2 linked regions of the Homo sapiens genome follow. The protein of the gene in region 1 interacts with the protein of each later gene in a pairwise test. Each region holds a gene or a part of one and is shown in the gene's direction. Other genes may lie near its edges.

Region 1 (5,510 bases):
CCAGGTTCATGCCATCCTCCTGCCTCAGCCTCCTGAGTAGCTGGGACTATAGGCGCCCACCACCACGCCTGGCTAATTTTTGTATTTTTAGTAGAGACGGGGTTTCACCGTGTTAGCCAGGATGGTCTCGATCTCCTGACCTTGTGATCCGCCTGCCTCAAAGTGCTGGGATTACAGGCGTGAGCCACCGCACTGGGCCCCTACTTAACCAGTTTTATTGCAGGAATCCTCAGAGCATGCATGTCCTAATGCATGTTAATAATCAAGAAAAGAGAGATCTTTTATGCTACATTTCCTAAACTTGACGTTGAAATGCTTTTCCAGCAGAACATCTAAGAGAGCCAGCATTCAGCATAACACGCTTTGGGAAATGCTGTCCTATATTAATAGATTAAACCTTTTAACATCTACAGTTCTCTATTAACCATAAGCTTCTCTCATCTCTTTAATCCTACTTAGTTGGTGGAAAGCGGGAGACTGGAATTGACTCTGTTAATAGGCATTAAGTTGATGATGAAAACAACCCTGCTCTGTGGATGATATTCAGAAACAGGATCTGCAGTCTGATTAAAAGCAAAATTGTTTTTCATTTCTACTTCTTTGGCAAGGTTCTGCAGGACCTCATCAAGATACATTTTGTGAAGTCTCTGTTTCATACATGTGACCTGAGGCATAAACAATGGGGAAGACTCCCCAGGGCCTCTTAGGTCCCGTGGTAGGCCTGGGCCTTATCTGATCTTTGTAAGCCATCCCCTGCAGGGCAATACAGTGTGACTACATAGGGCATCTGTAGGAACATTGGTTTTTGAGTCTCATATATCCACTTCCTGGATCCCCATGCATTTGCATGGTGGTAGGCTGGAAGCAGAAATGCAACTTATGGCCAAAGAACAGTGCAGCAGAGCATAATGGAAGAAACAGGTTCACACAGCTGTAGAATTCTTCCTTGGCTTCATCAGCTCTGTGTTCCAGCCCAGGGGTCAGCAGCTTTGGCCCAAGGCTGAAATCTGGCCCCTGCCTTTTTGTTTATTCTTTGAACTAAGAATGGTTCTTATATTTTTAAAACTTAGAAAAAATCAAAAGAATAATATTCTGTGACATGGGAAAAATTATAGGAAATTTAACGTATATGAAATTTAACCTTCAGTGTCTATAAATAAAGTTTTATCAGAAAACAGCTTGTATCATTCGTCTAGTCATCCCTATTGGCTATGACTGCTTTAGTGCCCTAACCAATCAATTATTATGACCTTTAAATCCTAATATATTTACCTTGTGGTCCTTTACAGAAAATGTTTGTTGACCCCTGCTCTAAGGCTATGAAACTCACCTGCCATAGGTAATCTTAATTGTTTTGTTTTTCATTTATTTAATTTATGAGGGGATAGAAATAAAATAGTTAAATTGACTTCCTAGTAGGTCCTCAAACATTATTGGCATTCAGGCACAGAAAGAGAAATACTGCATCATCTCATTTTTAGGTGGAATCTAAACATATTGAACTCATAAATAAAAGTAGAGAGAAGAATGGTGGTTACTAGAGGTTGAAGGCAAAAAGTGGTAGGGGTGCAGGGTGTGGGGAGGTGGGGGGAAGTTACTGGTCAAAGGGTTCAAATTTTCAGTTAGGCAGGAGGCATTCGTTTTGAGATCTACTGCACAGCGGAATGACTATAGTCAATGATAATGTACATTTAAAAATAACTAAGTAAATTTCAAATGTCTCACCAAAAAAAAGATAAGTGATGGCTACTGTATCCTCTGAATGTATGAAATTATAACTTGTAAATTTAAAATAATATTAATTTTAAAAATGAAACAAACTATTTTTGGCATTGGAGTCGTGACAATGCCAGTTTTTGTTGATGGCTGGTGTTGCTAACGCTACATGCCCATGTAAAGAGCAGAAGACAGTCGCAAAGGTGATCACTTGTAAATTTTATTCAAACATTTGAACTCATATATACAGGATAGGCACTCAGATAAATAAAACTACGGCATCCAGAGGTAAGGGGGAAATTAAATCTAATATAACTTAACTGTTTTATTTTATTACCTCTGAGCAGATTGGATTTCCTATGAGTAGTCGCCTCTGATTTTTATTTCAATAATGAAGCCAATCTTTTTTTATTATTAATGCACACTTTTATATGAATAGTGGTAGTTTAGGGGTGACAGCCTCAATTTTGGGTGACAGAAATACAAATTTCTCTGTCCCCACCTTAAACCTACTGAATCAGAATCTTTGGCGTGAGGATCCCCAGGGCTTTCATAAGTAGCTGCCACAGCATAGGGGGAGATTTTGGAATAGCTAGTCCAGGTATTTCCATGGAACGTAGAGTCAGAAAATAAGACCTTCGAGACCTGGTGCTTGGCTCTGTTACTGCTGTCATAAAATATTTTCAGACGAGGGTGTGCTGTGTGATCACAGAGTTTGGATTATGGGTCTCATTGCCAGCCATATTGATTGGAAGATTTCTGTGAGATATCTAACTTTATAAAGAGGACTGGTTTCAGGTGACATCTTCATTCAATAGACATTTTCCCACTTTAATCAACACCAGTATTAAAGCAAAGAACATTTTATATATATATATATATATATATATATATATATATATATGTATCAATGTGATTAAACAATGCAATTAAACAATGAAAATTGATTAAACAATGTGGTTAAACAATGAAAAAAAAGCCTTACTGTAATTGCCAGACACTAAGAATAACATTTGCTTGTTGATTTAGCTGTATTATTTCGAAGTCCTAGATCATTTTGTATCCTTAACTGCTGCAGGTTTGCAAAAGCATTTTTCATCCTGCAGTTGATAATATGTATCCCCTATGGCTTTTGGACATCTTGCTTTTAAGGCATTTTAACTTCCCAGGCTTCTCCAGAGACAGCCCCAAAACATTGAAGCCCACACCTGAAGGGAGGAAGAGAAAGCAAACACTCCTCCCTGTGAATTTGTGTAGAAAAGACAAAAATATGGCTTCTCCAACCACTTACTCATCCTTCCATCTTAGCTGGGAAGCTGTTGGATCAGTAGCATCTGCTGATGAATAACAGGATGACCATAGGAGGCAAGAATAATATTTCCTGAGCCAAGAAATGAGAAATAGTTATAAAAACACCCCACATTTTAGATCATTTTTTAAAAATCGTGCACTATTTATCACAGGTCATTGTGAGGGCACATTCCACAGAAGTGAGCAAAAATCCCAGGTATCCTTGAAAGCAAGATCCTTGGAAATTAGGATGGCAATTAAGTTATGTGTCTGGTCCCAACATATTTGAAACCACTTAAGCACTTCCAGCAGAGTTAGATTCACCAGTGCACAGTATTGTCAAGAAACCAAAAGAATCTGCCCAGAAGAAATGGATAAACTGAGTAAAAGAAACTGTAACAAGTCAGTGTTTGTGCATGTATTAAAGATTTTTGCTTATTATTTTCAATAAAGGATATTTAATACTGAAAGTTGTATGGATAGAAGTAACATAGTTTTAGCATCTTAAAGATGGATGGTATTCAGTTAGTGAAATCATAGAGCAATTTGCCTAAAACTTAAGAGAAACTGTTTACTTAAAATAATATTTGTTTCTGATAGATATTAAGTAAATATTAATGAAACCAACTTGATGTCAGTAAATAATAATAAGTAAAAAAACCAACTTTGTATTTCTCTATTTCACTGTAACTATTGTCTCATTTTGAATTGAATATTATTTCACTTGTGTTTTGTTTACACAAGACCTTCAGGACATATCTGCCCTGAAGCTAAGCACATGATCTAAAAGATGGGCACTTGTTCTTTTACCAAAGAGTTTTCTGGGGATTGAGATCCACTTACCAAACTATTCTCAAAGCTGCAGGAATCTTTGATGGCTTCAAAGAATTAATTTCCTTCATCCAAATGAGCAGTTTGCTTCTTTCTCAGCAACTTGTACTTGCCATAACTCTCTTCTTAGCAGAAGTGTGACATTGCCTCTTCCTTCTTTTCCTTCTGCTATTTTGGTGCAGTCCTGCCGGAGGCAATGGTTATGCAAGTGCCGCTGAATGCATTGCTGATCACAGGATGACACTTAGATAAATTTAGGTCTCAGTTTCTTTTAGGACAGAACAAACTTTTCCCAAATTAGACTTCCTTGAACTCCTAGACATACTATATGTTGGCACATATCACACCATCTTGTCTACAGTACATAGTAGTGAGTGCAAATAGCTTTGTCTTAACTAAGTATATTCACACTGGAAATTGTAGAATGTTCAAGTACCATATCTATATTTGGTTCAATTCTCTTAAAGAAAATAAAAGCCAGTCCTGAAGACGTAAAGTGGCTTGTCACACATCTAGTTAGTGGGTGCATCAAGGCTAGTATCCACATCTTATGACTGCAAATCCCATGACAATTCCATTCCATTCATTCATTTATTCATTTGTACTATTTACTGAGTACCTACTATGTGCCAGGCAGGGTGTTTAGCTTTGCAAATAGAATGCAAAACAAGTTATAGTACCAGCCCTCAAATTTTAGTACTCCCTACTCTTTGAGCAATATTTGGCCGGTTGCAACTTGGAGTTTGTGCAATTTTTCAGTAATGATACCCAATGTGTAAATATACAATGCTCATATATCTTTATTTTCCCTTCTTCCCTCTTCTAACTAGCCCCAGTCAATGACTTGACTTCCCATAGCACCAAGCACTTAACACCAATAAGAGTAAGATGGGAGGCCGGGCACGGTGGCTCATGCCTGTAATCCTAGCACTTTGGGAGGCCAAGGCGGGCGGATCATGAGGTCAGGAGATCGAGACCATCCAGGCTAACATGGTGAAACCCCATCTCTACGAAAAATACAAAAAATTAGCTGGGCATGTTGGCAGGTGCCTGTAGTCCCAGCTACTCGGGAGGCTGAGGCAGGAGAATGGTGTGAATCCAGGAGGCAGAGCTTACAATGAGCCAAGATTGCGCCACTGTGTGTGAGACTCTGTCTCGGAAAAAAAAAAAAAAGAGGGTATGATGGGAAATAGAGTTGAAATGAATTATGAAAAATTCCATAGGGAAGATCATGAAAATTCTTCCCCAGAAAACAATGTTCTTGATTCACCACCGCAAGGCTTGGGGGTTATTAGCTTGTGTGTCTCTCCTCTCGTTTACTCACTGTGTCACCAGGTCCTCTCTTTCCTCAAACTGGCTGAGACGTAGCTTGCATCCTCTAGCTTTACTTTCCTTCTGTATCTAAAGATAGACACAAACTCTTGGTGTTTTAAGTACTTAAGTGCTAATCCTTGTGGGGAAAGTGAGAGGGGAAGAGCAAAAATAACCAATGTGAAGAAGTTATGAAGTTTCCAGAATGATACCGTTGAATCTTGGCATAGGATCAGTAGTTAGTTGCTTACTTCCTCTAAGATAAGTGGAAAAACCCCATTATCTTCAGCTATCTGTCTTTATTTCTGGAGGCAAGATCAAAAACCAACCATCTGCCCTATAAGTCCTTACTTATTCTCCTG
Region 2 (2,661 bases), on another chromosome or scaffold:
CACAACCCGGCACACCCCACGGCCGAGGCTGGAGAGTGCAGGTGCCTGGTGGACTGGCCCGGGTGGGTGCCATGCACGGCTGCAGAGCCTGCTGGGAGCACAGAGGCTGCCCACTGGGTAGCCCCTTCCTCAGCCTGCAGATGCCAGCCCTGGGGGCCCAGGGGATCATCCAGACAGGTCCAGCCAATGTCCGGGGTGTGTGTGCAGGGGGTGCTGGCATGGCACTGATTTGGACCTTTCCACACAGAGCAGACAAGGCAGCTGAGGCCCGGAGGGGAAACGGCGTCCCCACGCCTGTCCAACTGCGGGCCTCTTGGCATCCTTTTCTGTGTAGGACTCCCTGCCAGGCTGTGAACACCTCACGGGGCTTGATGTTCCTTTGAGCACTTGCCAGTGGTTTGCAGAGGCTGGGCCAGGCCCTGGATGGCCACGTCAGAAGTGCAGGACGATGTCCCGGGTGGGACGGGGCCGTGTTAGAGATGAGTCCCCGGGAGCATGAGGCACAGCCAGGAGGGTGTGGGACTGTGGGGGCAGGGAGAGGGCAGGCCGTTTATCCGAGATGCAGCACCTGTCCCAGACTGTATGTCCGGGGCCAGCGTTGTGGAGCTAACCCTCCTGCTCCCCGCCGGGGCATCCTCCCTCGGGCTCTGGTGCTGCAGGTCCCTGTGGATGCTGCTGAAACTGAGACAGAGGCTGCGGAGCCCCACGGCGCCCTTCACCAGGTAGGAGCCCGTGATCACCCAGCAGGGAGGCCCACTCCCTCCAGCAGGCGTGGGATCCCGGCTCGCAGCCACCCCTGTGCAGGCCCATGCTGGGGACTGTTGTGCTCAGGTCATGGGGGAGTCATCACAGCCTCTGGTGGGTGGCGGTACCTTTTACAGATGGAGAAACTGAGGCTTGCTTGAGCGGGGACTCCAGGGCTGAGCCTTCATGGCTGCGCCCCCAGCAGGAGAGAATGATCAATTTCCCGAAGGCCATGGCCATTGTTACTGTTGCTTTTTCTTTTTGTTTTTTGAGACAGGGTCTTGCTCTGTTGCCCAGGCTGGAGCACAGTGGTGCCATCTTGGCTCACTGCAGCCTCTGCCTCCTGGGCTCAACTGATCCTCCTGTTTCAGCTTCCCGAGTAGCTGGGACTACAGGCACGGGCCAGCACGCCTGGCTAATTTTGTTTTTTATTTTTTGGTGGAGATGGGGTCTCGCCATATTGGCCAGGCTTATCGTCACTGTGTCATCCTGATAAAGAAAGGCCGGGCAGGCACAGGCCACGCTCCTGGGGGTTCCCCCTTCCCTCCACACCTCCCAAAGTGCATTTGTGCTTTCTGTTTTTCACAAGGAATCCCCATCTCTGGGTGTTCAGGACGAGGAGTGAGGTGTGGATTTGAGGACTTGGACCCGGGTTCCTGCCCTGTTCGTGCTTGGGTCGGGGGGGTGATGGGGACTCAGTCTCTGTGGATGGTCAGGGAGGCCACCTCAGTCCTGCCAGCTCCTCCCACTCACAGGCAGGGGCTCAGGGCTGCCAGGCCACACAGGGCATTCAGGGGCTTGGGAAGGGCAGGCAGGTGTGAGCGTGAGTGTAAGCGGCCCCTCTCTGCCCCACAGCCCGCTGCCCCGGGGCAAGCGGAGGGCCATGGAGGCGCAGATGCAGTCGGAGGCGCTGTCACTTCTCAGCAACCTGGCCGACCTGGCCAACGCCGTGCACTGGCTGCCCCGGGGCGTGCTGTGGGCCGGCCGCTTCCCGCCGTGGCTAGTGGGCCTCATGGGCACCATCTCCTCAATCCTCAGCATGTACCAGGCGGCCCGGGCCGGCGGCCAGGCCGAGGCCACTACCCCCTGACACTGCCGGAAGAGCACAGGGACACAGCCAGAGCCCACGGAGGGCCCTTCCCGCAAAGCAGAAGCCGCCAGGGCAGGGGCCGGGGCTCTCATGGAGCTGCCTGTGGTGAAACCCATGGGCAGGGTGGGTGGAGGGACTGATGCGAGGTCCCCCAGGCCTCAGCCTGGAGCTCCTGAGCCGTGACAGTTTTCAGGGGCCGTGCAGGGCTTCAGCAGCACCTCCTGCCTGCCAGCTGGCGTCTTGTATCCAAATCAAGATGAGGAAGAGGGGGCCTGTCGTGCCTTGAGAAAGCTGGAACGGGAATCAATTAAACATTGTGGTGCTGGCGCCTGGCTCAGGGGTGAAGGTTATTACACTGCTGGCTCCTGGCCCCTTACCCTCCACAGGACGGACCCAAAGTTGGAAACCACACTACCCCAGCCCACCTTCAGGAATGCCCTCAGCCCGGTGGGTCCTCTCCATCTTTGAGCAAGCGTTGCCCACGGACCCCAAGTGGCCTCCAGCCATTGAGGGCTGTTCTCTACTCCCCAGAGTCCTGGGCACACAGGCCAGAGGCGCCACCTCTCATCAGGCCACCCGAGGGCGTGGCCTCATGCCACTGTGCTGCCGACGCAGGGCCACTGTGAGCATTTTAAGGGCTCCAGGCTGAGACTGGGCAACACACACTGGCATCGCTGAAGATACTTGGGGCTCCCACCTCAGCCAATGTGTGGTGGGATGGGATGAGGGCACTGCTTAGTCTGCTGGCTGAGAACAACCCTTCAGAGTCTGTGCACATGTGGCCTCTGGCAGACATTGTTGCACAGCCTGGCCCAGGAACACACAAC

What was found. Proteins that work in one complex are often made in the same cells at the same time.
Region 2: the proteins of FAR2 (region 1) and PEX11G come close enough for resonance energy transfer, tested with the Homo sapiens proteins (one large-scale study listed by BioGRID).

Annotation. Positions count from the first base shown.
Region 1 is NC_000012.12:29,154,526-29,160,035, forward strand, and holds part of FAR2 (fatty acyl-CoA reductase 2), read left to right. Parts: intron 1-5,510. UniProt on the Homo sapiens protein: Catalyzes the reduction of saturated but not unsaturated C16 or C18 fatty acyl-CoA to fatty alcohols (FAls). A lower activity can be observed with shorter fatty acyl-CoA substrates.
Region 2 is NC_000019.10:7,476,375-7,479,035, reverse strand, and holds the end of PEX11G (peroxisomal membrane protein 11C), read left to right. Parts: exon of another isoform or gene 1-659; coding exon 660-722; exon of another isoform or gene 723-1,599; coding exon 1,600-1,834; 3' UTR 1,835-2,161; downstream 2,162-2,661. UniProt on the Homo sapiens protein: Promotes membrane protrusion and elongation on the peroxisomal surface.